2 linked regions of the Homo sapiens genome follow. The protein of the gene in region 1 purifies or fractionates together with the protein of each later gene. This does not show direct contact. Each region holds a gene or a part of one and is shown on either strand. Other genes may lie near its edges. The genes, in order: MDH1 and PGM1.

The links.
Region 2: the proteins of MDH1 (region 1) and PGM1 fractionate together in Homo sapiens (co-fractionation; 2 studies listed by BioGRID). This does not show direct contact.

Annotation. Positions count from the first base shown.
Region 1 is NC_000002.12:63,595,085-63,611,487, reverse strand, and holds the end of MDH1 (malate dehydrogenase, cytoplasmic), read right to left. Parts: intron 16,066-16,403; coding exon 15,969-16,065; intron 14,090-15,968; coding exon 13,914-14,089; intron 12,319-13,913; coding exon 12,196-12,318; intron 6,793-12,195; coding exon 6,616-6,792; intron 6,209-6,615; coding exon 6,095-6,208; intron 5,550-6,094; coding exon 5,460-5,549; intron 4,627-5,459; coding exon 4,501-4,626; coding exon of another isoform or gene 4,444-4,500; 3' UTR 4,291-4,443; downstream 1-4,290. UniProt on the Homo sapiens protein: Catalyzes the reduction of aromatic alpha-keto acids in the presence of NADH. Plays essential roles in the malate-aspartate shuttle and the tricarboxylic acid cycle, important in mitochondrial NADH supply for oxidative phosphorylation.
Region 2 is NC_000001.11:63,594,361-63,610,763, reverse strand, and holds part of PGM1 (phosphoglucomutase-1), read right to left. Parts: intron 1-16,403. UniProt on the Homo sapiens protein: Catalyzes the reversible isomerization of alpha-D-glucose 1-phosphate to alpha-D-glucose 6-phosphate. The mechanism proceeds via the intermediate compound alpha-D-glucose 1,6-bisphosphate.

The sequences.
Region 1 (16,403 bases):
TTGAGAAATATTGTGGCTGGTTTAATCAAGGTATTGTTAAAAAAAAGTGGGGGGTTAGAAAGGACAGTTAAAATGGTATTAAATGTACATATAATATCAAATCCAGAAGGCTGCTGCTTTCATAACAAACTAGATTCAACAGTATTAAAAAAAATCTGCTGTGTTTTAGGAATTTATCCTGCAGATACACTTGTACATGTATGAAATAACCAACTTACAAAAATAGTCCAGCATCTTTATAGTAGTAAAAGATTGAAAAGAATCTAAAAGTCCATCAATAGGAGACTGGCTAAATAAAGTTTGGTATATCCATTCAACAGAGTACTACATAACTTTAAAAATGAATGGGGTGGCTCTGCAGGTATCTATATAGCTTTTATGGTTTTTTTTGAGACAGGGTCTTGCACTGTCACCTAAGCTGGAGTGCTGTGGCATGATCTCAGTTCTTTGCAACCTCTGCTTCTGGGGCTCAAGTAATCCTCCCACCTCAGCCTCCCAAGTAGCTGGAACCACAGGTGTGAGCCAGCAAACTGGGCTAATTGTTTTATTTTATTTTTGTAAGACGGGGTCTTGCCATGTTGCCCAGGTTGGTCTCGAACTCCTGAGCTCAAAGCGATCTGCCTGCCTGGGTCCCCCAAAGTGCTGAGATTACAGGCATGAGCCACTGTGCCTGACGCTAAGTATCTATATAGCTTTAAGATGTATTACTAAAGGAAAAACACAGAGTGCAGAACAGTGTGTTATAATTTATGTACAAAAGGGGATGGTTACATGCACACACATATATTTACATACATACTTTGGTTATGCATTGAATGTTTCTGAGCTATAGGCCATGGGACAAAAACAAGGCTTAAATGGGTGGGAGTCAGGTGAGCAAAGAACACTTCTTTTCACTATGTATTCCTTTTTTTTTTTTAATTCTCAAAATAAATATGTGTATTTTTTTCCCTGTAAGGATAAACAAAAATTTGGTTTTCATTTAACACCATTTCATTGATTTTCTAATGTATATATAACTTTTATTTAAATTATGATTTAACTGGCAGTGGAATTATAGGGTTTTTCCCCCACTCCTTCTTTATGTTTTATTAGAATTAAATAAAGCTGCACTGGCTATCCACTTGTTGTTCAGGAAACATTACCAGGGTCATGATCTGCAGAGGTCAATATTCCCTTAAGGTTTAGGTTTATACAGATTGTACCTCTTTTGGAAAGCTTCTTAATCTAACTTTATTGGCTTAAAATGTAATGTCTTTTGCCCTGTAATGCATCCATGTATCATTTCCTCAAGTACTAGTAAAAATGCTTAGGAAAGGCATAGGCTTTTCACATATTATCATGCTGCTTGAAGACACAACTTCCTGGGCCTGGACTCCATTAAGAGAAGGAGCAACAAAATGCTTTGTTCTCTTGGTAAAGGTGATGGAAGTGAAGAGCATTAAAAAAATGGCATAAAGAGATAATCAGTTTCACAGTGTGAATATTCAAACCGAAACCCATGCTTCAAAGGCAAAGTTGGTGAAAAATTACTTGTTTCTACAAGTAATCTAGATCTCTCCAATAACTTTCATATATACATACTTTCTTCATATAACATTTTCTTTTGTTTTTTAAAAAGACAATCTTGCTCTGTCACCCAGACTAAAGTGCAGTGGCATGATCATGGCTCACTGCAACCTTGACCTCCCGGGTTCAAGCGACCCTCCCACCTCGGACTCCCGAGTAGTTGGGACTACAGGTGTGCACCACCATGCCTGGCTAATTTTTTATTTTTAGTAGAGATGGGGTCTCACTACATTGCTCAGGCTGGTCTGCAATCCTCCCACCTTAGCTTCCCAAAGTGTTGGGATTACACGCATGAGTCACTGCACCCAGCCAAGATTTTCTTTTTAATTCTACATGAAATTAGTTTTCATGCTTCCAACTAATTGCTCTTCTAAAGATATGTTTGATTCATTTGTTTTTTTCTTTTCTGGCTTATATAAAGTGGATAGAAGGTAATGATAGAGGAAACCAACAGGAAGGAGTAAGAGCATGTTTTCTTTCTCTTCTGCCATCCAGTCCCCCTCTAGTACCCTTTATTAGTGTGTGTATATATATATATTTTGTTGTTGTTGTTTTGTTTTGAAATGGAGTCTTGCTGTCACCCAGGCTGGAGTGCAGTGGCATGATCTCGGCTCACTGCAACCTCCCAGGTTCAGGTGATTCTCCTGCCTCAGCCTCCTGAGTAGCTGGGATTACAGGCATGCGCCACCATGCCCGACTAATTTTTGTATTTTTAGTAGTGACAGGGTTTCACCATGTTGGCCAGGCTAGTCTTGAACTCCTGACCTCAAATGATCTGCCCGCCTCGGCCTCCCAAAGTACTGGGATTACAAGCATGAGCCACCGCGCCTGGCCCATTAGCACATTTTTAACAAGGAGCAGCTGGTAAAGAAATGTGGCTTGCCAAATTCCAGTCCTAATGTCACGAGAATATAGAAGGGAGTGTTTGGAACTGAAAGAAAATAACAACTGGTACAATTCATACTTACTTTATACAAAATTTTGTTCATTCTATATGAAATTTTGTTTTTATGCTTCCGATTAATAGTAGTCCTAAAGGTAGTTTTACTCAACTTGCTTTTTCTTTTCTACATCATAAAATGATCTAGGTAATTTTTAATTTTTTAAAAAGGAGATGGTCTCGCTCTGTTGCCTAGGCTGGAGTGCAGTGGCGTGATCCTAGCTCACTGCAGCCTTGAATTCCTTTGCCTAGGTGATCCTCTTGCCTTACTTTCCGGAGTAGCTGGGATTACAGGAATCCACCACTGCACTCAGCTAATTTTTAAATTTTTTTGTAGAGATGGGGTCTTGTTTTGTTGCCCAGGCTAGCCTTGAACTCCTGGCTTCAATCAATCCTCCTGCCCTGGCCTCCCAAAGTAGTAATTTTAAATAAGTCCAACCAACAAATATTTGAGCATCCATGAAGAGTACTATGTTAGGCCTGGAGATATTTATTAATACAATATTGCCTATTACATGTGGACAGTGTGTTAAGCATGAGGATGAAAAGATAGAAAATGCCTTCTGCCATCATAGGTTTGGGGAAAAAACAAGACTATTAAAAAAACTCCACTATTTTTCTAGTAATAAGCTTAGTTTATTACTTACTTCTAACATCATAACACTATGCTAGTGTTACTCCTAACACTAGCATAAACTTCTGTGGTATTTAGTGGTTTTGAAATATAAATGATTCCTTATCTGCTAAAAAGTAATACCTCCAGTGAAAACCTATTACCATTTTTTTAATATAATGAAAATATTCTAATTTCATCCAATGGCATAACACTGTTAACAATATTATCTGCAACTTATTTAATATTAGTAGCTAGCCTTAAAATCAAATTATCTACAAAGCGTAAACCTTTAAGATTTTAAAAATATGGTATTTGTTCAACGTAGGTAATGTTTACAAATATATGCTGAAATAGACTGATTCATTATCACAAGGTGGGTTTCTATATTCTATTTAAATACGAGATTTATGCTTTATCTTTCTAGCCTTACTGCCTTCCCCTGGTTAAAAAAATGTATATATATCTATCTCAAAATTATTTAGGCAACCTGGGAAACATTCGAGTTTGTTTTCTTTTCTTCTTTTTTTTTTTTTTTTGAGACGGAGTCTCGCTCTGTGCCCAGGCTGGAGTGCAGTGGCGCCATCTGCTCACAGCAAGCTCCGCCTCCCGGGTTCACGCCATTCTCCTGCCTCAGCCTCCCGAGTAGCTGGGACTACAGGTGCCCGCCACCACGCCTGGCTAATTTTTTGCATTTTTAGTAGAGATGGGGTTTCACCGCGTCAGCCAGGATGGTCTCGATCTCCTGACGTAGTGATCCGCCCGCCTCTGCCTCCCAAAGTGCTGGGATTACAGGCGGGAGCCACCGCGCCCAGTCCTCTTCTTTTTTTTGAGACGGAGTTTCCCTCGTAGCCCAGGCTGGAGTGCAGTGGCGCAATCTTGGCTCACTGCAACTTCCGCCCCCCGGGACAACCTATTCTCCTACCTCATCCTCCCAAGTAGCTGGGATTTCAGACCTGTGCCACCACGCCTGGCTAATTTTTGTATTTTTAGTAGAGATGGGGTGTCACTATTTGCCCAGGCTGGTCTCAAACTCCGGACCTCAGGTGATCCACCCATCTCAAGCTTCCCAAAGTGCTGGGATTACAGGTGTCAGTCACTGCGCCTGTCCGCAAGTTTGCTTCCTGAATAGACACTAAATATTAGCTAGAAACAGAGTCTGAGTCACTTTCATTTGAATATATATTTATTTAGAATGCACACTAACAGCATGACGATAAACTGTCATTCACAAACCTGTACCAAGAAGCACGTAATCTTTAAAATGTGTTGTTTTTCACAAGTAATTTAAGTATAGCATTATTATTATTTGGTACTTGAGTCAAAGACGACATTTAGATTCTTCAGCTTTGAAGCATTTAGTAACATCATTGTCTAGTCAGGCAGAGGAAAGAAATTCAAAAGCACTTTCTTTTTCTTCTGTCAGTTCCTTTGCAGTAAGATCCATCTTCTCACGTGAGAAATCATTAATAGGGAGACCTTCAACAAACTTCCAGGTCTTATTCTGTTTGAAAATAATGCAAATAAGAGATTTAAACTGGAACTGATCTTTCAGTAAGCAACAACCTTGTTTGAACTTATATTTAGAGGTATATCGTTTTAAAGTCTGATTCTAAAGTAAATAAAAATCCAGATTTTAATTAATAGATAATTCTAATAAAAACTCAACACTTGAATTTTAAACCCCTTGAATCTAAAAAAAAAAAACTTCAAAAATGACTGACTTTAGCACAGTTATAATAAAGAACAACAACACTGAAAACCATTGCTTCATTTAGAAATATACTATTTGTAGGTCTCTAATACTAGAGGCATAATAACATAGTGTCTAGTGGGAAGAGCTGAATCTTCCTTTCCAGATTAATTTCAATCATAAAAACTTTCAATGACCTGAAGCTGAAATACATATAGTTTTAAAGCTGAGAAAAATGTCTATTTTAGTAAAGGAACAATTTTCTAGATTAAGTGATAACATTCTGTTTTCTTTTTTGGGGGACAGGGTCCCGTTCTGTTGCCTGGTGGAGGGGTACTGTCATGGTTCACTGCAGCCTTGATCTCCTAAGCTCAAGTGATCCTCCTACCTCAGCCTCTCAAGAACCTAGGACCACAGATGTGTGCCACCATGCCCGGCTAATTATTTTATTTTTGCAGAGAGGGGGTCTCACTATGTTGCCCCGGCTGGTCTTGAACTCCTGGGCTCAAGCAATCTTGCCACCTTGCCCTTCCAAAGTGTTGGGATTATAGGCGTGAGCCACTGTGCCTGGCCAATAATACCATTCTTAAGAGAAACATATAACTACTTCCTCAAAGAAGGGAAATAGCTCCAAAATACCTTACCTTGATTACAACAGGGAATGAGTAGAGCAGATCATCAGGAACACCATAGGAGTTGCCATCAGAGATAACACCCATGGACACAAACTCTCCCTGAAAATAACAATGTTTCACATACTCATGATGATTAGTTTACACAACTGACACATGAACTAATAAAATTAAACCAGGTGACCCTTTCTTACTATGTTCATAACATCATTACTGTGTAAGGAACTATCATCAGCACCAGGTACTGGTGACAAGGTAACTTTCATGGATATTATTTCATTCCACGCTTCCATATCATATGTGAAGTAGGCCAGGGAAACCTAATCCTCATTTTACAGATGAGGAAGCTGTGGCATAGAAGAAAAAAATTCACCCCTACTATGTATCAGGCATTGTGCCAGGTGTTTTCCATGTGCAATCTCCTTTAACCCTCACAACCCTGTGTATAATAGTAATGTCATGTAAAAGATGACAAAACAGCTCAGAAAGGTCAAGGCTAACAAACCCCGAAGTTTACTTGTTAATAGGCAGCTGAGCTGAGAAATGAACCTAACCTGACTGACTGCTAAGGCTATATTCTTTTTATATTATATCATCAGGCAACAAAAATAAAATAGAGTGACCTGTGCAAATCACTAAATCCTTACCTCTGGGGTTCCAAACCAGATGTCCCTGACGTGGTCACAGATGGCTTTTGCAGCAGACATGGCACTGGATAGTTTTCGAGCCTTGATGACAGCAGCGCCACGCTGCTGCACAGTCTGGGAAGGGGGCAGGTGAAGGCAGCAGTATTACTTGGTCATGATAGCAAAGTTTTCATTAATTCCAAGTCGACCTTGGGGTGAAAAGCTATGACCAGAGCTTAATGTTTCCCCTCCAAAATCATGCAACAACCCAATGTCAGCCTTACCAATCCTTCTGGAAAAAGGAAACTATGTATCTCCATACAAAGTTTATCATAGGTCAGACAAAGACATGGATCTTGGTATAAATCTCAACTGCTGTCACATCAGATCACACTAGATCATGACTGGCTTACTATGATCCCGAAAGTATGCAGTCATCAGAGCAACTGTGAAAGACCTGCCCTCTTTAAGGTTTTCTGTCCTAAGAGTCTCTCAAGAGTTCTTTACGCTCAGTGTTAAGAAGGCTCACAGATTTTTCTTACCGTGACAAATTCTCCCTTGAGCCAGCTGTCATCTTTCAGAGCTTCATAAACACCAACTTCCTTTCCTTGCAATTTCACCTTGGCATGGTTGACATCTGGATACTGAGTCGAGGAATGGTTTCCCCAGATAATGACATTCTTTACATCATTAGCAGTCACACCAAGTTTAAGAGCAATCTAGTTAAATTGAAAACAAATACATTACTGAGACAAATGGTTTTTATTTCCAATTGGGACCTGTTTTGACAAATGCCCTTAAATAAAGATAAAAAGCTTCTGAAATTTCAAGAGAACACAAGAGTTATATTGACTTGTAAAAAATGTAAATTTATTGCTTGGCAATTTCCTACAACAGCTTAACAGTGGTAACAACTGTGGACTTGAAACCTTATGGAGTAGAATGTTTAAGGGTATGAAGCATCCCATAGTTTGTGGTTAACTTATTAGTACAGTAGGTGTATCAAACATAAAACATTAATCGTTACTATTATTTATCAATTTACTATTTCTTGAATATGTAAATGTGATCTTTTGTTTCACTGTTAATGTTTACTTGGAGATGTCTTCTCAGTGCTTCTGAGTAATCAGGTATTTAGGCACTTTATATTTAGGTAAAATTTTTATTATATACCATATAGAAATTAATTTTCAAATAACCCTAAATATGAAATTTTAGAGTTGGATAGGACTCAAATTACCAAGATATGACTGTCCTCATTTTATATATCAGGAAACTGAAGGAAAGAGGTTTTATATATGTGTATGTGTGTGTGTGTACACACATATATACACTCTAAAATTATAACATATGTAACAATCTCTAGCTATAACTCCAGAAAGCACTTTAGGGTCCTGCAATGCCTTGCAATCACATGTAGTACAGTAGCCACAAAAAAGGTTAGAAAGTTATGTCTTGGGCTGGGCATGGTGGCTTACGCCTGTAATCCCAGCACTTTGGGAGGCCAAGGCGGGCAGATCACCTGAGGTTGACAGTTCGAGACCAGCCTGACCAACATGGAGAAACCCTGTCTCTACTAAAAATACAAAGTTAGCCGGGCTTGGTGGCACATGTCTGTAATCCCAGCTACTTGGGAGGCTGAGGCAGGAGAATCGCTTGAACCTGGGAGGCGGAGGTTGCGGTGAGCCAAGATCGCACCACTGCACTCCAGCATGGGCGATGCAGCGAGACTGTCTCAAAAAAAAAAAAAAAAAAAAAAGAAATGTCTTGGTAGATTTAAATAAAATCAGCCTGCTTGTTATTTGTCTGATAAGTTTATGTGCAGAAAATAAATTATGATCAGGTATATGTATAATTTGTTCCTAACTAGACAACAGAATTTATGATGAACCAGAAGGGAATGTGGAAAAATATTTTAAGAAGCTGATCTGTTTTGGTGACATTGTGGGCAATTCTTCCTTCCTCTGTGTCCCAAAAAGAATGGGAGAAGAAACTAGTTGTGCCAGAGTCTGTAGCTTTAGCACACATAAATAAAGCATTTGAGTATTTACCATGTAAGAAAAGGAATACACTTTGATATTTTAAGGAAAATTTTAAAATAAGGGTAATAACAGCTCCAAACTGAAACAACTCAAATGTCGTTCAAGAATGGTTAAATATGCCAGGCGCGGTGGCTCACACCTATAATCCCAGCACTTTGGGAGGCCGAGGTGGGAGGATCAGGAGGTCGAGATGGAGACCATCATGGCCAACACGGTGAAGCCCCGTCTCTACTAAAAATACAAAAATTAGCTGGGTGTGGCAGCGTGTGCCTGTAATCCCAGCTACTCAGGAGGCTGAGGCAGGAGAATCTCTTGAACCTGGGAGGCGGAGGTTGCAGTGAGCCGAGATCGTGCCATTGCACTCCAGCCTAGGCGACAGGGCGAGACTCTGTCTCAAAAAAAAAAAAAAAAAAAAAAAAAAAAAAAAAAAAAAAAAAAGAACGGTTAAATAAACTGTATTATGTCTTACATAGGCAATGGAATAAATAAAAGGGGTAAGTGGAAAAACAACAAAAAGAAACAAACAACAACCTGGATGGATCTTAAAGGCATTAAACTGAGTGAAAAAGAGCCAGTCTCAAAAGGTTCCTTACTGCATGATTCCACTTTTGTAAATTCTCAAAATGACAAAATTATAGAGGTGGAGTGCAGAAAAATGATGTCAGGGACAGAGGGTGGTGTGACCATAAGGGAGAGTATGAAGGAGTTCTTTTGTGAGTGATGAAGAAATTCTGTACCTTGACTATGGGGGCAGTTACAGGAATCTACACTTGTAATTAAATGTCATAGAATCATTCATAAAGACACAGAAAAAAATAAGTGAATATAAAACTGGTGAAACTTCAGTAAGTCTAGTTAATAGTATTGTGTAGTTCATCAACTTCCTGGTTTTGATAATACTCTGTAGTTATGTAAGGTACCATCAATGGGTGATGGGTACATGGGCCTTCTCTGTACTATTTTTTTGCGACTTTTGAGTCTAAAATTATTTCAAAATAAAAAGCAAAAAAAAAAAAAAAAAAAAACCCCAACCAACCAACCGAAAAGGATAAAGATGAAAAAAAAGGCCATTACCTAAAATGTCTGCAATGACTCGACTGGTCTTCATACTAATTTATTCAGTTAAGTAAGAAGTAAACTGTCTTTACTTTCACTCCCACTCTTAAACTAGTTGAGACTGCTTTCTTAAATCCTAAAATAGTTAAAAGTTTACTTAAAAATTTATGTTTGTGATATTGTAAATCACTTTTGACCGATCTAATCCCTGCAAGTCTTGCAAGTATTAGGACTATTATCTACAATATTTGCATTAGTCTCCACAAATTAGTTCACAGTTGGGTTTCTGGGGTACCCAGCTATTGATCTGCTTAGCCTGTGGGATAGGGTAGAGTGGCACGCTGTTCAATGAGTACCATTTTTTACGTCTGCCATGACCAGAAAGAACTGGGGAAGAAACTGCTCTTATATTTATACTTAAATTTAGCTGGTATGGTATATAGAAAAAGATAAATTTATACCTTGAACAATTAACTCAAGATATATATTACCAGGAAGTTAGAGCCTATAACTTCCCTGAATGTCTGCTTCAATGCTCCCAAGTACAGTGAAGACAAAATGCCTCTAGGCCTCTCCACCCTCAGTCCTCCTTGGCTCCCATGCCTTCCTTTGTTCTTGTTGCCCTCCTCCTCTTGCTCCTTCTATCTCTTGAGCTAATCCAGTTCTGTCTGGACAGCAAAGGCCAGGTACTTTGCATCCAGCAGATATAGTTTCTTAATATGATTCATGTCACAATTAGTCTAAATTAATACATACCCAGGATAACAGCTCTTTGCTCCCTTAGACACTCATGTCTGTCACATAGGTCTGTTAAAAGTTTTTGATTAATTCTCCAGCCCTAGTAATTTTCTTACAAGCTAACTGGTATCATTGTCAAATTACCTTATCTGGTATCAATGTCAAATTACCTTATCAGCAGACATAAATACAGCACTGGTTTGCAAATACACAGGCAAGTTCTGCAGGTGTTAAACAGTCCCTAAGTCGCTAAGGCCTCTGAATTCCAAGACAAAAATATCTAGCAACCAGTCCTGTAAGAAAAACTTATCTTTGGGTTTGTTATTTTTCTCACTGGATAAACAACTTCTTCTAGAGGAAGAAAGTGCTTCTTCAATGACTCCCTAAAAGCTCTCACTATGCCAGATTGACATGCTGAAACAATGCCTAGCCAAGGTCCCAGGAGTAACAAAGAACATGTCCCCAAGTGAAGGTTAAAGTCTGAGGAGATAGCACTTTCTTTCCTCTTTGCTCATTCAGACTTGAGCCCTGCAGTGAGAACTGTTTCAGGCACCAGGACAAAGTATCTCTTTGAAGTACCTTTGGAAGCAGAATTTTCCAATGCCTGTCTCCACCAAAGCCTCAGGTGAAACAACAAAAAGTGGTTGTTAGTGTCATTGTTGTAGGAACTTTCTTGTTGTAGGAACTAAATAAGTCACTTTCTGGCAATCCAGAGTTTGCAACTGTAACATGTATAATATCTCTTCCTTTACAACTGTCCCACAGAACTCAAACTGCCTGCCATTCAAACAAACTCCTATTCGTTCTCAGCTACCACCAGACCCAGCTCACAGCCTATAGCCTCTCAGGGAATATTTGCACTTTAAGCTAAAAATTTAAGGGTTGTTATCCAACAACCCTCTAAATTAGGAATGTTTAGGCTGTATGCTTCTTAGAAAGAAGAAATCAACTAATAATAGCAGCCAACCTTTCTTGTATTTACTATGTGCAGGCACCATGCTAAGGGCTTAAAACAGATCTTATTTAATCCTCATAAGAACTCTCTGAGGTAGATACAATTATTACATTTTAAACATTGAATATACTTTCTCAAAATCACAGAGCTAGTAAGTGGACTAAGGTTAGTTGATACCATTAGGTAAGAACATACATAAGGGTTTGGAGTCAGGCAAATCAAGGTGGCTCCGTAATTTATGAGCTGTATGACTCTGAGCAGGTTCTCTGACTTCCCTGGGCCTCAGTTTTCTTACCTAATGCAGGGATAATATGAGATACCCATATGGTTACTATAAAAATTAAATGGAAAATTACATGTATAGCATTCAATTTACAGTAGATGCTTAACAAATGTATATTCTTTTCTCTTTCACTAGGCATTCCAGAGCTGAAGGATTATTAATTCTCAGGTTAGGGCAGTAGTGCTTCAGCTTAGACCTCACAGCATCTTCTGGTTAACAACAATTTTTTTTTGAAACTAAAGTTATCTTCTCTAGAAGAAAAAGCACTGAACTCATAGACCTATCTAGCAGTGATGACCTACAGACAAGAAGGGATGGCCAGAAAAGCATTAGGGCAAAGGAAAGAGGTTCTGTCCAAGAACGGGCACCAGGACCAGTTAGATCTGAAAAAGCCTAGGAAACTAGCTCAGATCAGTTGCCTGGCTTCTAATTTTTTGAAAAGCTATTGTTAATTCCCTGGTCACTGGCTCCTTGGCATACTTATCTATGGCTCTAAGAGTAAAGAAAATTAGCAACAGACTTTAGCTCCTAAGTAGTGAAAGGAGGAAATTTTACAGATACACATAGAATATTAAAAAGACATAAAATGAAAATTAAATATAAAATTAAAAATTAAAATCTGAATTTGATGGCTTAGCTGCAGCTAAAATAGAAGCAGAACCACACAATCACACAAAGCTCAAGTCTTTGTTTATATGAGATTATATGTATCTGAAAAAATTAAACTAAATTATGTACCATCATGTATAACTAATTTTTAACCACTGTAACAAGAGAACATTAGTAACTGCATTTCATTATAGTTAGCAATTGAAATATAGTTAAAGACGAAATCAAGTAGGAAGTCCAGCCTCTGGTCCTTTAAGAGAATACATTTAAAGACTCCCTAACAAATGAATAATAATTTACTTTTAATTTAATAAAAGTAATAGGTTCCTACTAAACAAAAACAAGAAAAAAGCACAAACTCAGATTCAGTTATTTTAAAAGTGAGAGAAAAATGTTTTAAAGTTGAACAACCACAAGATTTAAAATATATTTTTCTTACTTGAGCTTTAGCTCGGTTGTGATCCAAACGAGTCAAGCAACTGAAGTTCTCCTTGGGGATGGATGGAGCTGACTTGGAAGCAGTCAGGCAGTTGGTATTGGCTGGATTACCCACAACAATAACCTAGGAGGAATGGAAGGCACTGAAGAGTTACAGACTATATAGTTACTAACTAATCTATGTTAAAATTTGACTGAAAATGTCTAACAGGTAGCCTTTGTACAGGGGAGGCTTGGGAAACACCAAATACAATATAGCATAGGAAAATGCATTTTAAGTTATAAAAATCTTTTATAAAATGGTAATAAAAAATTTTGAAATAATATCAGATTTATAGAAAAGTTACAACCATATTACAGAGACTGACTCCCATATATCTTTTTTTTTTTTTTTTTTGGTACCTCTTTTGACAAGCTGTAGACAAGATACTTCATTGTCTCTAAGTAGTGCAGTGCTGGCAAATATTTCTCACGAACAAGGACGCTTTGAAGAAGTGGAATTACTGTGCAAGGAGTACTTTACCTCCAAATAGCCTGCAATTTAGCAGTCTGAACAATCTTCTAATCTTTTACTGGCACCTGTGGATTTCTATTAAACTCATTTATACTATTTTCTGTGATGACAGAAAATAAGTTAACTATTTAAAATGAAGTGCACAGAAAGCAAAAAATGCAGATATCTATGAAATGTTATTGATAGAACATTATAATGGGCAACTTAAAAAATCTTAAAAAATTTTCTTTCACCTTTTTTTGAAAGATAGGAAAGTATATGGAAATCAGTTAAACCTTTAACCGGCAAGCCTATTTGCTGGGTGACAATTAAGTTCTAGTTAATTGATAGTTCACTAATAAAAGAAGGTTTGGCTGGGCGTGGTGGCTCACACCTGTAATCCCAGCACTTTGGGAGGCCAAGACAGGTGGATCACCTGAGGTCAGGAGTTCGAGACCAGCCTGGCCAACATGGTGAAATCCCGTCTCTACTAAAAATACAAAAATTAGCTGGGTGTGGTGGCGTGCAACGGTAGTCCCATCTACTCACGAGGCTGAGACAGGAGAATCGCTTGAACCCGGGAGGCAGAGGTTGCAGTGAGCCAAGATTGCACCACTGCACTCCAGCCTGGGTGACAGAGCAAGACTCCGTCTCAAAAAAATTAAAAAAATTAATAAAAAATAAAAAAGGCTTACTGTAATATTAAGACATATTAGAATCTAAAGTAAATAGTTTGAACACAAAGAGAGAACTATAAGTCATACTGACTCAATTCTTCAAGAGACAAGCATATTAAAATTCCTCTGCATTAAGAAAATCTGAGCATTCAGAAACCACTATCTTCTATTCCTGAGAATAAACTTACCTTACAGCTAGCTATCTCCTTTCACAATCACACACAAATTTAAATGTCTAAATAAATATTCCCACGCAGCAAAAATGCACCAGAAGATCCTGTGCCTTCTCTATATGTTTAAGAACTAATACTAAATTTTCACGTTATACTAATAGGAAAAATATTTTTGAGCACTCTGAATATAGATTTCTATACTGTAAGAAAAAACCCAGAAAGGGAGAGCTTATCAAGCAAAACTCTAGAGCCGTATTTACTGATGATTGTACAGAACTAGAAAAAAGGGCAAATAATTTTGGTTTTGCTTAAATGCTAAAAGCATAAGTTTCAAATGCTAATAATGAAAAATCCCATAAAATACAGCATTGGTCACCTTAACTGACTTCTTGGCGTATTTATCTAAGGCTGCACCCTGGGATTTGAAGATTTTCACATTTGCTTTCAGTAAATCTTTTCTCTCCATGCCTTCCCTTCTTGGCATGGAGCCCACAAGAATGGCCACATCCAGGTCTTTGAAGGCAACGTCTTCTTTATCTGTTGCGATGACATCTGTGGACATGGCAATAAATACGCAGAGCTACTTAAACATCAAAGTTTGAAGTTTTCTTTTTCATATTGAATCTACCCATTAATTCTTTCACTTGTTGCAAGTGTTTACATATCACACTGATATACATTTCAGGAGCCTGAGAAAGATAATATATTAATTTAACAATCATAACATTAGAAATGTCAATAGATTTATTTTGCTTTTCCTGTTTCAATAATTACTTAAATGTCAAAACTCCATAGCTTTTATCTTTTATAATCATATATGATGCAAGGTATAATGATGACTTTTGAAGTGACACTTGTTATTCACACTAATTACCACACAACACAAAAGAGCAACTAATTCACCTAACCTTTAAATTACAATTACTTTAAGGTCTAAGACACCAATCACAAATTTAAAAATAATAAATGTTTATTGAGGAGTTTTGTGCCAGGATAATGCTAAGAGATTTATATTACTATCAAATTTAATCTTCTGATTTTATAGATGGAGACACTGAGGTTTAAAGAGATTAACTCGCCACCATCAAAAGATAATGGAGCTGTAATTCCAGCCTAGGTTGGTCCAGAGTTCAACCACTATGCTCCAGTGCTAGTACAATAAGCAAACATCACTTGCTTTTTGACTAAAGAACATAAGTCATCGCACTTCTTTGTTGATTGTATTAAAAAAGCTATGACCAACATTCAGCATTTTCACTGGAAAATTGGCTAGTTGCATCATAGTCAAGGCTGCCATAAGTCTGAAAATGGGCATAGACAGGAACACCAGTTGGAGAAAAAAAAATTATCTTCCTCTTTCCCAGTCACATGTCCTTATTTGCTGAACTTTCCCTTCCCTGTCATATTCATATCTGGCAGAGGACAAACCAACAGCAATCTGGGCCCTTTAGAGAAAAAGCACAGGGAACTCAGCAGAGAAAGGAATACAAATGGGAAAAAGCAGCAAAGCTGATTTGGAAAGAGCTGTGGGTGAGAAAAGGGAACCAACAGAATAGTGTGGGCAGTCATGTATTCTTCCACAGAACTTTGCAACCAAAAGACTTAGATGGCAGAGTATCCCTTCTAGCAAATGTTTATTCAACAGATGAAGAATTTTAAGGAAAGTTTTTCTTGGAAGGTATGTATTATTTTGCTTTGTGCAAACTTCTAGGAGAGTATCATTAATTAATCCTTACCAAAAGAAAGACTATGATGAAGAAATAGCTGAAGAAAAATATTTAAATTAATTTAGAATATTTTAATAAACTTTTCGATCAAATTTAAGGCTTCCTTATTATATCTGTGTTATAGTTCAATGATTTGCAAAGGCCCTTAGCTGAGCTCTTCTGGGTTTTTTCAAACTATAGAGCATATGGTAAGGACAATTTACACTATGTCTCAACCTGATGATTGGTAGATGGGATGGGGACCGTGTAAGAGGAACCAACCAACTTCCAGAGCAATGTATAGCTATGAAGGACATCCTTCAAAACTGAGAAAGTTTTCCATTACAGGATGCTACTATTACCAGTTAAGCAGACTCCATAACAACACAATGTAGACAATTCCTACGTTGTCTATAATGTGTGTGTGTGTAGACAATTTCAGGTGTATAACCCTTGTGCAATATTACACTTAACTGGTATAATAAATTATATACACACACACATTGGGGAAAAAAGGATAGTCCTTTACCTGACATTGATTGTTGCTCATTTCTTACCCTTATTTATCCTTGGTATACATAAGTAGTTAATAAACAGTGGTAGTTCAAAATAAAAAAATCCTCTTATGAAATAATTTCTAATTGAGAGCCTTTAACAAAAACCTAAAACCTGTATTTTGTAAGAAATCAAATACCATAAAATCCCTTCTCTACTCCCCAACCCACCTTTCAGGAGGGGAAGGGCACAGTCTTGCAGTTCCATTAGGACACCGTCCAGGACACCCATCATGGGGGTGATATCCAACAGCACAAGAATTATAGGCTACCAAATAGCAAGGACAGCATCTGTTAGTGTAGGCTATTTCATTTAGACACAAGAAAGTCTTTTCACATAGTTTTTATTTGGTATGTACATGCATGTAATTCCCATTAATTAGTCATGATGATTATTTTAGGAGGTCAGGTATCTAGCACTATGCCACTTTCAGAAAGAAGGATGCTATAAAACCAGCATTGGTTTGCTAACAGACACAGTGAGAGGAATCACCACTACTCAATTTTAACAGTATATGAAAAAAACATTAAACTGAGTGACATGCTATAGCTTGCTCTTATTGTTAATAGCTGTATATTTGATTTCAGTTCATGGAAAGCTAAGTA
Region 2 (16,403 bases), on another chromosome or scaffold:
GCATGAAACACTCTCTGTAAGAAAGATATTTCTGTTCTGAAATTTATAAGCTAATAGGTGTAGAGCATCTTGACAGGTCATTGGCAAATCTGGGAAGAAGAGAAGTTAAAATGAGGGGGTAATGGCCGGGAAACCTTTTGCAAGAAGTTTAAAGTGTCTGTATTTCCCATCAAAACCCCCAACATATTAATTTCACAAATGAGTAAAGAAGCAGCTCAAGCAATTTGCCCAAGATTAAACAGCTAATAACTACCATGTCCAGGAATCAAACTCAGATCTCACACCAAAGATTATATATACTTTTAACATAAATTTTAACATAAAAGATGTAATTTTGATATTCCACTAAGATTCTCAAAATGGCAAAACGCCTGTAACTTTTTTTTTTATTATTCTTTAGCACATCTGAATTTTGGACTTTGAGAGAACTAGACGAAACTGTGTGTAGAGATTTGTTTTTGGCAAGAGGCTTACATTAGTCCAGTGGAATGACTTTCCTGAAGCAACATTACAGTTTCAAAAACAACCAAATAATTCATATTTGAGTGGCACCTTAGAATTCACAAAACCTTTGTATGTACATTATTTCATTCTATCCTCATAAAATTCTCTGATATAGCATATATTGGAATTAATCCCACTTTACTGGTGAGAAAACAGTTTTAGATAAGTTAAGCAGTATACATGATATTGTACAATTAATTATGAAACTGAAATTTGAAGCAAAATCTCAAAGTCTTCACTTCCAACCCACTACTATGAACTGAGGTTATGTGGTAAAATTAGGTAGCCACCAAGTGGTCTGACTTCCATTTGGAACCCATTGTAAGTTGAAAATATCATCAGTCAAAAATGCATCTGATCCACCTAACCTACCAAACATCATGGCCTGGCCTAGCCTACCTTAAATGGGCCCACAACACTTACCTTAGCCTAAAGTTAGGGAAAATCATTGAACACAAAGCCTAATTTATAATAAAATGTTGGAAGATCTCGTGTAATTTATTAAATACAGTACCCTGTATTGTACATTATTGGTCGTTTACCCTCGGGACCGCGTGGTGGACTGGGAGGTGTGGCTCACTCCTAGAGTATCATCCTGCATTTTGCTAGCCTGAGAAAAGATCAAAATCCAAAATCCAAAGTATGGTTTCTACTGAATGTGTATCACTTTTACACCACTGTAAAGTTGGACAACTGTAATTCATCATTCCATGGTAAGTCAAGGACTGACTGTAATAGAATTCGCACCCTGTTGTAACTACCCATGGAGTGCCTGTCTCCCCCACCAGCATGAGCACCCTAAGCACAAGGACTTTGTCTTACTCATCCTGTACCCCCAACCACTGTGCACAGTGCCTGGCATACAAAAGTGTTCCGCAATGCTTGTCAAATGAACACATTCACATGTCCCAGGAGGTTTCCAGAAATGCCAGCATACATTTCTTGCAGCTTCCCATCTGCAGCAAGACATTGGCCTGGGCCCAGTAACCATTCCACAGATCCATCCTGAAATATCCATCCTTAGCTAGCCACTGCTAGCTGGTGACTCAAAACAGGTGAAGATCTCAGATTGATGGGCCTGTGGCTGAGATTTAGAGCAACTGTGAACCTCTGCCTGACAGAAAAAGTCCAAGGGATAATGTGTGGACAGAGGCAGGATAGGACAGCCAAAAAGTGAGGGTGGTAAGAGGCACAAAGACCCTCCCTAGGCCCATCTTCTTATCCCCTCCCTCTGCCTTCCAATGGCCTCAGTATTTGGAATAATCATAATAATCATAGAATCATCAGAATCTTCTCTTTACTAACCAGTTACAATGTCAGGCCCTATAACAAGTGCTTCACAAATTTTATTTCATCCTCACAAGAATCTTTCAAGGCAGATATTACGATTACTCTTTCGAATACCACTTCTACATATGGAGGAGCTGTCTATGGCAAACTGTGGGGTAAGTGATTTTCTCATGGATTTGACCACAAAGCGGTTAGAGTGAACTGTGTGGCCCAGCCCAGAGAGGAAGCTGGGCTTTCATGACAGGTGCCAGTCTTATCCCTGATTCCATCTGAGTTTTCTACACTGATTTCCCTTTTGCTTCATTTCAAAATCTTCCTTTAAAAAGCACTTCATCTTGTTCCACAGAATGCATTTTTCAAAGTCCCCATGGAGGTGGTATAACCTAATAGTTTTATTGCTAAATCAAAAGGCCTTTCCCTGTCCCCACCCAGTTATACCATCCCAGATCCATTTTCTGGCCTCTGAAGTCAGGGGACAATTTCACACAGTCGAGGTGGGCACTGGCTTAGCATTTGGGTTTCAAGTTCTATGGTTTAGAGCTGACAGGACTCTCTTCCTCGGTCAGGGCCGGGTATTTGGCCATTTTGTCGGTTTATATTTTAACAAACCTTCCCATTTTGTACAGCTCCTAAATGCCTCACCAAAGCAGGTTTAAACGTTTACCAGAATGGAAGAGAACTGTATCCCCAGGCCACTGCGGTAGGCTGCAGAAAGCAGAATGCCAGACTCTGCCTCAGCAAGAACTGTCTCTTAAGCTCCTCTCTACAGGTCAATGTGCTTGAACAGTATAAAATACAGTAACTCCCTTTAAACAGTTATGCCAGTTGAGTACATTCATCTCAATTAGCATTATCTCTTTCAAAACAATCACCTTGGGAAACAACATATTTATTCAAACAATGCTGACACCTCTCTAACTCTTTTAGTGGGTAACTGTTTTTACTGTCTGCGGCACTTTCTTTGAAAGTCCTCAGTCATGACAAATCTCATCCTTTGAGAATAGATTTGAACTTTGGAAAAAGACAAAAATTGGCTGGAGCCATGTCTAATGAATAAAGTGGGTGATCAAATCTTGTTACATCGCTTTAGGTGAAAAATGAGGCATGACTATAAAATAATGTGACTGGTTTTCCTAGGTGACCCATAAACTGACTGGCTGAAAGATAATTCCCATAGAGGAGTTTCAAATGCTTTGAGCACTACACGCATCACTGGAGTGCGTGCATGGTTCCCAGAGTGGCGATTTGGCAGGGTACGATACTAATTTGGATATATAAGTTCAAATATGTTTATAAAAAAAGAAATCTGATTGCTTACCCTCACGAAAATGAAGAAGCTATTCTGGAGAAATGTCGCCTCCTTTTTTTGACAGCCTGGTCTGCTGTGGACAGAGAGTCTGCCAAGAAAGACACACTTATCTTCTGCAGAACGCCTTCGCTGGGCACACCACCCATCCCAGGCACACTCGCCTATCCCAGGCTGGCCCTGAGCTCCCATGACCATCTCTTTTTCCTTCTGTGTTAGCTTTTATAATACCTAATGGTTACTGTCTGGTTTTGCATGTGTCAATCTTCCCCATTCAACTGGCAGCTCCTTGCGAATGAGGACATCTTTAACCCTCCCATGCTCAGGACAAGGCACACAGAAGCATGGGATACTAATTCCACTGCTCCTGACACAGCCCTTACTTTGCTTCTCATGATCCTGTGGTTTCACTTGGTAAATGGAACTTCCCCTGCCTGGCAACCAAAACTGGACATTTGGTCCATGTAAAGTCTACCCACACAAACGTAGAGACTGAAAGTAGACTAACGGCTGCTTAAGGCTGAAGGGGTAGGGAAGCAAGGGAGATTGGCTGCTAATGTAAGGGGTTTCTTTTAGGATCATGGAAATATTCTGAAGTTAGATTGTGGTGATGGTTGTACAGTTCTGTGAATAGACTAAAAAATATTGAATGATTCACTTTAAGTGGGTAAATTATATAGTATGTGAATCATACCTCAATAAAGTAGTTTAAGACTCGTACAATGGCAATGTTTGTGCCTTGGTTCCTTTCTAAAGTGGGGTTGGAATAATTGACGGCCAAGGTCTCTTCCAAAAATCTAGCTGCCCATATAAAATTAAGTTCTGTCTTCTCTCTGTAACACTACCACTTGAAAATGACAGTGATTTTCACCAGATTTGGAGGGAATGCTTAGGACAGTATAAACTATTGGTTGTTTCCCAACATCAATTCTCTGTTTCATTTGGTTTGTCAAATCCCCAATGTTTAGCTTGACAGATGACACCCAGAATAAGACTGATATTTCACAGCCCTCCTTGCTGCTAGAGGTAGGCTTAGCTAAGTTTTGATTAATGCGACATGAGTGCAACAGATATGTTCAATCTCTGAGAAAGGTGTGCCTTCCTCCATCTTTCTCCCCTGTTGGCATGTTAGCTGGCATGAAGGTAAGGTGGTGGGCAGCCATCCCGGACCTAGATAAGAGCAACACTCCAGGGAAGGCTGCACAACAGAAGAAAAGGGGCATGGGTCCCTGTGTATAATGGAGCCACACATCAGCCCTGGACTGCCCACACCCAGGATATGAAAGGAAGGGTTCCATTACTATCAACTTTTAAGTACTTTATTTGGAAACTCTGCTAACAGCAGCCAAACCTACATTTTAACAAAAAAGTTGGTATTCTGTACCAAAACAGAATCTAAAACATTGGCATCAGCATGCTTTTTATGGCATGGAAAAATTTGTTGCCTCTGATAGCATGGAAGGCAGACCACTGGCCAACCAAATTTGTAGCTTGAGACAAATGGTTGGCAGAATTCAGAACATGAGTGCTTGTCAACTACCTCTTGCTACAATAAAGACGGGAGCTCAGGCAAGGGCTGGCCATTCTGCAGAGAGAAATAAAGGCAGGTTGGGTTCTGCTAAGGGAAGTTTTGTTTTTTGTTTTTACTGTGGCCTGCAAATGATACCGTCCAAGTCCAGGAATTTGTGCCATCACAGAGTTGAGATGACAACTATTTGTGAAACCAAGTTAAATCAGCTATACAGTAAGCAGCAGGCTTAGCAGAGAAGGCTGTGTCTAAAATCTTTCCCAGGGCTAGGTGCGGTGGCTCACACCTGTAATTCTGACACTTTGAGAAGCCAAGGTGGGTGGATTGCTTGAGCTCAGAAGCTGGAGACCAGCTTGGGCAACATGGCAAAACCTCATCTTTACAAAAATACAAAAAATTAGCCAGGTGTAGTGGTGCATGCCTGTAGTCCCAGGCTGAGGCTCAGGTGGGAGGATCACTTGAGCCTGAGAATTCGAGGCTCCAGTGAGCCATGATCACACCACTGCACTCAGCCTGGATGGCAGAGTGAGACCCTGTCTCAAAAAAATAAAAATAATAAATAATAATAAATAAAATATTCCCCAGGATTCTCTGTCAGACAATGGGAACTAGCCCACCAGCAAAATCAGATTAAGGATACTGCCTTCGTACTAGCCTATCTTTTCCACCTGTCTCAAGGTAGCCATCAGTAATAGAGAAATCAAGGGAGGCACAAAGCATCCAATAAATACAAGTCAAAGTTTTTAGGTTTCAAAACTATCTAGGTGAGAACTTTCACTGTGATTACCAGCACATGGAACTGATCAGGATAGGCCAGAAGACTACTAAATTTGTGAAGGTACTGTACAGTGAAAGAGCCAGGAGCCTGGCCTGCAAAAGTCACCCCTGCCTCTTTTCCTCCAACTTTCATCAGCAGGAAGCAGGTTACATAAGCTGTACAGCCCCAAAAGGACTTTTAGGGCCTTCTCCAATGTCCACTCTTACTCAATAAATATATTTACATGAGCAGGTGGATAGAGTTCCTCCCTGAGGGTGGAACCAGGGTTCCCTGTGGACCTACTCCACTGCCAGGACAGGAGTGTGCATTCCCAGCCAGGACAATGCGACAATGTGAACACTCCTATGGCTAGTGACTGGTCTACATATGTAAATATACAACTATATCCCCTCTCTTTACACACACACACACACACACACACACACACACACACACACACAGAGTTATGTAACTCCCTCCCTATATATATAGTTATACATAGTTATGTAGTGGGGACAGGGGGCCTGATAATTTGTCTTTAACTTTACACAAGGAGCCACACATGGGCTTGATGGAGAGAACTATGAACACTGAGTACTGACTGGGTAACTGGAAGGAATCTGGGGTGCCTCCACTGGAAAGGAGTGCTGTGTTTCAATGGGCAGGAAGAACAATGGGCATGGCTGTCTTCATGGCCAAAGAGGTGGACCATGGCACATATTTCTAGTGTTCCTTCTCTTCTTTAAGGTAACAGAACCACTCATTTTCAGGGGGCCATATGCCTCTCAATATAGAGTCTACATTTTCAGCCCTTCTTGCAAGTAAATGTGGCCTGCATGTTAGATCTTCCCAGTGGATTGTGAGCAATAGTCAGGTACACAATTTCCTGATTTTAAAGGGGGAAGACACTCTGCCCCATCTCTCCCCTGTGCCCACTAGATGAAACATGGATGTGGTAGTAGAAGCCATCTGCAACCAGATGGGCAAGGGCAACACCTTCAAGATGGCAGAGCAACAGGATTAAAGAGGCTGGGTCCCAACATCATGGATCCATCATGCTAGTCTTGGCCTGCTGACCCACAATATTCCACAAGACAGAAAAACATCTTGTTTAATCCACTGTTGTTTTGAGTGTCTGTTACAACAGCTGATTGAACCTATAAAATCGTAAAAATTCCTTATAGGCTACGTGGTGTACATCAAATTCACTTTGGAAGGCACCTCAAAGTATACTCTTTCAGAGTGGTCCAAACAGATCTGCAGCGGTAAGATCAAGCCTTGACAGGGAAATCTGAGATTTCAAATATAAGCCCGGTAGAAAGGCACAGGGCATAAGTGCTCCAAGTTGCAGGTGATGAATCATGATTGAGATGATTCTCATATGTGCACTCTGAGTAGCATCAAGAATGTGCAGTGTAGTCACATCATACAAGTATTTATCTTGCACAAATGTAACTGTTGTATATAGAACTTCCAGGGAGACAAAGAAGACAAGAGTGAAATTTAAACAGCATGGGCAATTCTGCCACCATTTCACCCAGTGACCACAGGCCCCTGCTCAGTCTTAGTCCCCACGTGCTTCTCAAAGTATGGGTATCTTGAGTGCACTTCTGCTATTTAAAGACATACCTGTTGTGTTACATGTTGTTCTCCAATGTGGTACTTTCCTATGGGACTTTAAGGATGATTTTGACTGAAGTTTCATCTTCCACTCGAACTCTAGAACCCATCCCACTGTAAAATGCAATTTCCTCTATTAACTAGATGATAGTTAATGGCTTGCCCCCATTGATCCTGGGAAGCCATCTGGTCTTACGATTCTGTTCTACTGACTCAGTTTTCATTTTTTATGTGGAACATTTAAGGAATAAAAACCAATGTGCCTCGAGGTGGATTTTGCCTCTTGTTTTACATTGTGATTCCAGAAACTGGTTTTAATTCAACCCAGTAGTGAGAAAAATAGCTCTGACTTACATAGCAAGATCTCCGCACTTCCCTACTCCACATACTCATTTCCTGCTTAAAACTGCCCAGATTAGCATTATCCTCAGCCACTCTCAGTGGGAACCTGGTATTTGGAACATGGCCCAACACCCCTTACATTCTAGGAAGAGTGGGGGCAGTTCCCAGGCTCTTTTCCTGACTTTGTGACCTGGGACACCTGAAAGGTTTGTTGTAGACAGGAAATAAGGCCATGCATGTGGCAGTAACTTGTAAAATAGAAAACATGAGGTACATTTTTAGTGCAGTTGCTCCTTGCAGAGTATGAAACAAAAATACGGAGTTGGGGGGCAGTGAGGGGAGCTTTCTCTTAAACATGCCAAATTCTCTCACCTATGGTTCTGCCTGGAACATTCCTCTCTGCTCTTCACCTTCAGGTCTGGTTTTAGTTGTCACTTCCCTACTCCCTCTGCTGGAACCAGGCACGCCTCCTTTATGCTTTCCTAGCCTCCTTTGCTCACCTCCATCCCAGTGCTGACAGCACCTTGTGGCAGTTCTCTGCTTGTCCGTAACCCACCTAGCCTCCAACACAAACCTTCACCTTAAGTCCCAAGCATGTGAGGACTGGGCCTGTATTGTTCTCTGCTGCAACCTACGAGATCACCATGAAGTTTCACCAATCAGCTCATTTTGAGCTCCCTGCCAGTTTACAATCCTCACACTTGTCGGTTTAGCCCCCAAATGGCTATGACACCATGCAGATTAAGCCCTCCGGACTCACACAATGTAGTAGCCATTTCAATTCACTCTTGAGCAACATTTCAATTCACTTGTGAGCACATTGGAGTACAACATACAGGACTAATATTTGGTCAGAAGGACTTTTGTCACTTACCTCATAACTCTACATGTGGTGACCTGGTTAGAAAATACTTATTGGGCTGAATCAATCACACTCAAAGCAGCCAAGAACAAATTCATATATTAGTTGCCAAAATAAGCCATATGGTATACATGGATATTAAAACAAAATTTCACCTTCCCTGCATGCCCTTAATGGCAGTTTAAAAAGAAGAAACTTAAATCTGAGAAGATTCTTGTATAATATAGATGGTCCTATCAACCCAGCATGGTATAGATTGGTATTTCCCAAAATTCTTCTGTTTGGGGTCCTTTTACAAACTCTCAGTACTCATATATTAAAAGCTCTGAAACTCCTACTTAACATTGCCCAAGCCAGTTTCTCCATGCTATTAACCAGCATATTATAACAATCCCCAGAACTACTTGCTCTGGGATATATTTATTTATGGAAAAGACCAACCAGATGAAATATCAGAAGACTGGAGTCCCTGTTCCAACACCATTAGCATACTGGACAAGTCAACCAAATATTTCTGTCCTACCACCTATCGCATTTCATCCTTCAAAAACACTTTGGGGTACTCATAGAGAAAAAAAGAACATCTTTCCAATATGAAAACATAATTTTCCAAGTGTTTCTGATTCATGATTAAATCTTTATTGGCATGACTTAATTAGCATTCCCCACTGTGTTAATTCAGGGCTGTCTTTATGCCTTGGGGAATCAGCTCAGTGGTGATTTGGAGAAGCTATGGGAAGGAGGACTTCCAACAGCTGAAGTTTAAAAAACTAAACAAAACAAAACCCAGCTTACATCCATCCGCGTATCCCAACACTAAGCACAGCCTTCTCACCCTTTCCAAACAACTCCCTATGCTGCCCCCTTGTGATTTCTTTCCCCTTTGAGGACCCCAGGGGAGAAAAGTCTTCTCCGCAGTCCTCCCAACTGAAGCCCTCGGCTAGCCATTACTTACTTAACACACTCAGGAGCCATTTTTCAAAGGTGGATCCCAACTGTGAGCACAGCTTCAAAGTCAGCAGAATAACTGGCTATGTCTGTGTGGGCCTCAAGGGAACTTGGAGGAGAATAAAGGGATCAGTTCAAACTTTCCTGCTTCACTTTCTTAGAAGTGTAGCTCACTCAAATCAATCTGCTGAAAGCTCTTCTAAAGTCTAAAGGGGTCCAGACTACACCACTGTGACATAAAAATTATTTTGAGCCAGTCATTTAAAAATAGGCTTTTTACTAAACTCCTTCATCTGTCTTAAAAGCAGTGTGCCCCAAAGGAACTCTGGAGTTTCACAACCAGGGAAGATCGACTCATTACCATAACTAAATAGACACTGGCATAAAACTACCACATCTCCTATCTAGTCTCTTAAGGGCTGATTTATCTCTCCTAAAGTCGTGGTTTCCAGCAAATGCTCTTCTCCTCTTCCGCCTTCCCCTACTGAGATGATGTATAGGCCCCCAAGTCTAACTGCCTCCTGTCACATTTTTCTGTAAACTCCCACAAATGTCTTTTTGTTGCTCATTTGTCTTTTACATTTAATTTGCAAGCCCCCAGTATATAACCTAGGAGGGTAGATGAAAAGTTTTCCCTACCCTAGAGTCCAAGAGAGAAAAAAATTATTGTTAAATATTTGATCAATGTTGATTACACATCTTATTATCCCAAGATAAATTTATAATAGAATAATACTTATAATCTATATGCAAAATGTCATAGTATATTGGGACCCTTTGTACGATAAAATGTATGCTACATTTATTTACCTGAGGCATAATTTTATAACATTAAATGATTATATGTGTTTATCCTTTCCATCTAACTCTTCCTCTGTCTGGAAGTCTTTTCACGGATATCTGCATGGCTCACTCCTTCACTTCATTCAGGTCTCTGCTCTCATGAGGTTTATCAGACATCCCAATTGCTGCACTAAAAAGAGCAGCCCATCCTCTAATGCTGTCCCCTTTACTGGGTTTTATTTTTCTTCAGAGAACTTATCTTCATTTGACACGTTTATCATCTGTCAGGCTCAACGAGAACCCCACAGCTCTGTAGAGCAGAAACTTTGTTCAATTCACTGTTGTATCCGTAGTACCGAGAACCTAATAGGTGCTCAATAAATATTTATTGAATGAGTCACTCTTTCCAAAACAGTAGAGCACTCTTCCCTGTTATCTTGTTTACAAAAACAAAACAAACCCTCTATCTCAGAAAGGGAGAACGTTTTTCTTTTTCTTCTACAAAATTTCATGAGCATTAGATTTGATTAAAAAAGAAAAAGGAAAAAGATGTTTCACCAAGAGCATTAGTGAAGCCAAGAAAGAAAAAGTCCCAAGCAAGCTGATTTAAGTATTTTATGTAACAAAGATTGTTTAGTGACTAAGTGTCCGGCTCTAAAAAAGAGTCCTGCCTATTCTCTCTTTCTCACTTCTCTCGGCAGGTCCCCTTCCTGAAGGGTAGCCCCATCTTCTATCGCACACTATCCGCTCTTCAAGACATAATTGGTTTTAGGTGCAGGCACCTCTTCTTTCCCAATCCAAAATGTTCTCTCTCTCGCTGAGCTCAGCATGTTTTCTAATTCTGTTCTTTGTATGTCTATGTGTTTCTTCTGTCTTATCTCCCCCAAAAGATTGTATGCTCCTGGATGGAAAGGACAATAGGTTATCCATACTGGCATTCAGTGCTGATTCAAAATCAGAAAGTGTAAACAAGGGGAGAACAATTGTTCAAAGCCCACCATAATTCATTTTATATTTATTTATTTATTTATTTTTGAGACAGGGTCTTGCCATCGCCAAGGCTGGAGTGCAGTGGTGCAATCACAGCTCACTGAAGCCTTGACCTCACAGGGTGAATGTGATCCTCCTACCTCAGTGTCTCAAGTAGCCGAGACCACAGGCGCCCGAAACCACACCAGATTAAGTTTTTTTATTTTTTGTAGACAAGGGGTTTCACCATGTTGTCCAAGCTGGTTTGGAACTCCTGGGCTCAAGTGACCCACTCAAGTGCGGTAAGCCACCATGCCCGGCCCCACCATAATTAAAAAGTGGTTTTTTTTTTTTTTAAAGTGGGGGTTACAGCATGTTAAAAAGTGACTTGGGCCGGGTGTGGTGGCTCACGCCTGTAATCCCAGCACTTTGTGAGGCCGAGGCGGGCGGATGATGAGGTCAAGAGATCCAGACCATCCTGGCCAACATGGTGAAACCTCGTTTCTACTAAAAATACAAAAATTAGCTGGGTATGGTGGTGCACGCCTGTAGTCCCACCTACTCAGGAGGCTGAGGCAGAAGAATCACTTGAACCCAGGAGGCGGAGGTTACAGTGAGCCAAGATCCTGCAACTGCACTCCAGCCTAGGGCAACAGAGCAAGACAGTGTCTCAAAAAAAAAAGTGACTTGAAGGTGTTTCTCTGCCAAGTCATCCCTGCCCCAGGGATATAAGGTTTAAAGTTAAAGTAGCAAGGTGTCTCCACCTAACTCCAACTACCCAAGAGTCTCAAAACCTTCCCCTTCCTGCTCAGTGTTCTTTTATTTCCTTTTCAAGAAATGTGAACTGCTATAGCCAGAAACATGTTCCTTCAGCAGTGTTTGCAGATGGATCTCATGAAAGTTCAGAAAAGGGTGGTTCACTTCAAGCGGGAGACAGTGGAGTTCCTCCACTATAAGGCGAAGTTTGCAAAGTCCCACTAGTTTGCTCTGAGAACATGAGACCCTTAACCTCTGGGTCATGTGTTTGAGGTCCATTTTGGTGCAGGCATCACCTGATGCTAAAAAAGGATCATTGTTTAGTGTGGGGTTCTTAACTTGGGATGCTTACATCCCCTTCCCCTACCTCAAGAGGTCCTTGGGTAGAATTCAATGGGATCCATGAATATGAATGACAAAATAAACAAAACAATCTTTATTTTCACTAACATCTAACTGAAATTTAGCACCTCCTTTTATTATAAATGTAGGAAGCAAACCACAGTATTATTACTACTACTGCTACTATTACTACTACTACCTAGGAATTTATCATCAATAAAAATTATATTTTCATATCCTATTATAGTTATCTCAAAATACTGAGATTGCAGACGTCTCAAAACATCATTTATACTCACCACTACTTTGAAGTAAGGCAGTATTAAATCCTCCACAAATCTTCCTATGTCAGTAAAGAAGCATTATCTTGATATATCACAAATCTGGTTTTTTAATATTTTGATTATACTTCAATATAATTTTGCTTCCTTTGTAATGGTTTGTATTTTGTTTTATTCACTTAAAAATAAAAATACTCTGCCCGGCACGATGGCTCACACTTGTAATCCCAGCACTTTGGGAGGCAAGGCCGAGGCAGGCAGATCGCTTGAGCCCATGAGTTCGAGATCAGCCTGGGCAACTTGGTGAAACCCCATCTCTACAAAAAATATAAAACAATTAGCCAGGCATGGTGGCATGCACCTGTAGACCCCAGCTACTTAGGAGGCTGAGGTGGGAGAATCAACTGAACCTGGGGAGACTGAGGCTGCAGTAAGCCACGATCGCGCTACTGTGCTGCAGTCTGGGCAACAGAGTAAGACCATGTCTCAAATTTTTAAAAATATATATTCTGAGAAGGGGCTCCACAGTTTGCACAAATGAGTAGCAAAGGAGCCGTGACAAAAGAATCCCTGTAACTTGACAACAACAACAACAACAAATACCCTCCTTGCTCATAAGTTCCCACAAAGGTATTTATTTTATTTTGCTTAGGGTGGTGATAAATCATCCTTCAAAACATGCACACATTCATTTGTGAGCTTAAACTCTCCTCAATTTCTGATGCTGGTCATTTGCAGATCATTAGACCCAGAAGTGATTTTTAGAGACCAGGAATAGTTTCAACTAAAGAATTCGTTGGGATTCTCTTGGACTTTTCAGTAACATGGGCCAATAAAATTCCTTTTTCACTTGGAGTAATCCAAGTAAGGTTTTTGTCATTTGTACCCAATTGGGCTCTGACTAACACGGAACCCCTCTATATTGGTTGAGGCTGTTGAGGATTAGAGGAAGGTGGGAGACCATCTGGGTGGCTCATATCTGCATCACGTTGGATTGTGTCCTAATACCAACAAAACATTGATAACACACCTATCATTCGAACAGTTTCCAAGTGAGGTACTTGTAAATATGTTGTTTCATCTAATCCTCACAACAGGCTCTTCAGGTATGTATTATTCCCAACCTTTGTGGATGAAACAAAAAAGGACTAGAAATTTGTATTTGTATCTAATCTAAACTCCCTCAATTTGTATTCATTCTGCTAAGAATTCCTCCTACCAGACAAACCCACTCTGGGAACTCCAAGTCATTCTTTAAGACTCAATTCGGCTACCACCCCTCTATGGAGCCTCCCTCCCTTCATCTTCCCCTCCCAAGTACAGCCCCTCAGGTTAAAGACACCTGCACATCCCTCCATCACAACACCTGACACATTGTGCTGTCTGCTTACTCCTGTATACCACCCCTCCCAGACTATGTCTTTCCCAAGGGCAAAAATATTTTGTATCTCAAGTACAATGTCTGAGGCAAAGCAAGCACATAATAAATGTTTGATGTGAATAAATTTATTGGTCACCAGCTACATGCTGGCTTTAAATCAAGTGCTAGAATACAAAAGTGACTCACAGTTCAGAGCAAATAAACAAGAATTCATTGAATGCTACATAGTCCTAGGCATTGCAGATACAGGTAAAACACAGGTCTGACTTAAAGAAGCTTACTCTCTAGTTGGAGGCCGTTGACATGTAAACGGAAAATTTCACTAGAATTTAATATATATATTCTAGAATTATCTATGGGAAAGGAGCACTTAATAGGTGGAGAAGAGTGGTAGGGATGGGGTGTCAAGAAAGGTTTCTGAAGATGCCATCTGGACTGAATCATATCACAAGAGAAAGAGTAGCATATTTAAATCCCGAGTGAGTAGAGAGAGTGAACAAAATCAGAGAACAACCTGAGCGTAGAAACCTAGGGAATAGGCCAGGCGCAGTGGCTCACGCCTGTAATCCCAGCACCTTGGGAGGCCGAGGAGGGTGGATCACCTGAGATCAGAAGTTCGAGACCAGCCTGGCCAAGATGGTGAAACCTCATCTCTACTAAAAATATAAAAATTAGCCAGGTGTGGTGGTGCATGCCTGTCATCCCAGCTACTCAGGAGGCTAAGGCAGGCGAATTGCTTGAACCTGGGAGGCAGAGGTTGCAGTGAGCTGATTGCGCCACTGCACTCCAGCCTAGGCGACAGAGTAAGACTCCGTCTCAAAAAAAAAAAAAAAAAAAAAAGAAGAAGAAAAAAGAAAGAAAGAAAGAAGAAAGAAACCTAGGGGATAGTCAATGTGCAGCCCATGAAGGAACTTCCAAAAAGTGTGAGTAGAATCAGGAGAGTAAGCAAGGCCAAGGGAGGAAGAACTTTACAAGAGTACAAAATCAGCACTGCCAAATGCAGCAGAAAGGCCAAATAAGATTAGACCAGAGTGTATTCCATGAATTTAGCAACTGGCAAGTCCCTAGTAACTTTGGCAAGAGCAATTCTACTGGAGTAGTGGAGGGGGCAGAAGCAGTGAAATGGCGAGTAAACCGGAGGTGAGAATGAGAAATAGTGAATGCAGAAAGCTTTTACAAAGGTTGGCTGAGAGAAGAGCAATAGGGCAATGGCTAAAGGGTGATGAAGTTTTAAGAACTTTTTTTTTTAGTCTTAACTAATTCTTTCCTTCCCACCCCACACTACTCCCAAATGGACAAATTTCCATCTGGGCACCTAAAATTCCCACTCTGCTGTAAGCTCCTTAAGGACAACTCTTGGGTCTGCATCATCCTTTTAGTCCACACATTTCTCTGAACATGGTATTCAACAGGATCTGTTGAATGACTGACTGAATAAATGAATGAATGAATGAAATGCAAATTCAGCACAGGTGGTAACAGGGAAATGATCTACTGGGATACAGCTATTGTCTGTTCTTCTTTCATGGGAATTTGCGCTTGTCTGAAAATTCAGGACCACAAAGTAAACAAATCCAGGCAATCTTCTCTCACTGATGCTTATAAATGTTTGGCCCAGGAAGGCAGATGTAGATAGAGCCCAGTTTAGATTTTGGAGCCTGGAAAACAGATCTTCAAGATCAAGGGCTGTTCATTCTTCATTCTCAGGAGCTGTTCAAGTTCTTGGGATTGGCAGATCTATATTGGACTCTTAGTGCTGCCATTATAGTTTTTGTAAATTATTTAACCTACCTAAGCTTCAGCGTCCTCGTTGGCAACTTGAAGATACCCATAATAGCATCTACCTTATAGGGCTGCAGGAGGATAAATGAGACCCAGAAATGAAGCGCTTACCATAGTGCTTGGCAAATAGTACTCAATGTCAACAAAATAAGATAAATAAAGTACTATTAAAATGAATAAAAATATCCATTTCAGGGGATGCGTTCCAGAAGAATTGGGCATAAGTCAAATCTCACTTAAAATATAGAAAGAAAACTTGGTCCTCAGAACTCCTTAGAAATGTTTTACAAAAGTAAGTGAATAATTAGCCCCAACTTATCAATCCACTTTTTTTTTCTTTTTTTTTTTTTTTGAGACGGAGTCTCGCTCTGTCGCCGAGGCTAGAGTGCAGTGGCGGGATCTCAGCTCACTGCAAGCTCCGCCTCCCGGGTTCACGCCATTCTCCTGCCTCAGCCTCCCGAGTAGCTGAGACTACAGGCGCCCGCCACCACGCCTGGCTAATTTTTTTTTTTTTTTTTTTTTTTGTATTTTTTAGTAGAGACGTGGTTTCACCGTGTTAGCCAGAATGGTCTCGATCTCCTGACCTCAGGTGATCCACCACCCTCAGCCTCCCAAAGTGCTGGGATTACAGGCGTGAGCCACCATGCCCGGCCCCACATTTCCATATATCAGATTTACTGAAAAACTTTTTTTTTTTAATTTCCCCTATCCGAGTGGACCCGCCCAATCAAGTCAGTTAACTTTCCTTGGCCGGGGGCGGAACCAAGGTGTTGCGGTAATTTCCTGGCCTGCCACGACTGCTTGCTTGCGTAAGGGCGTCTTTGGGTATGTTGCCATTCTAATGAAAATTCAGCTCCAGCCCCGTCGGTGGAACAGATCCCGGGCACCACTGGGCAGAGACTAGATGTTTCAAACGCCTGCCCCCCAGCAAGCAGGCCGCGCAAAGGGCAGG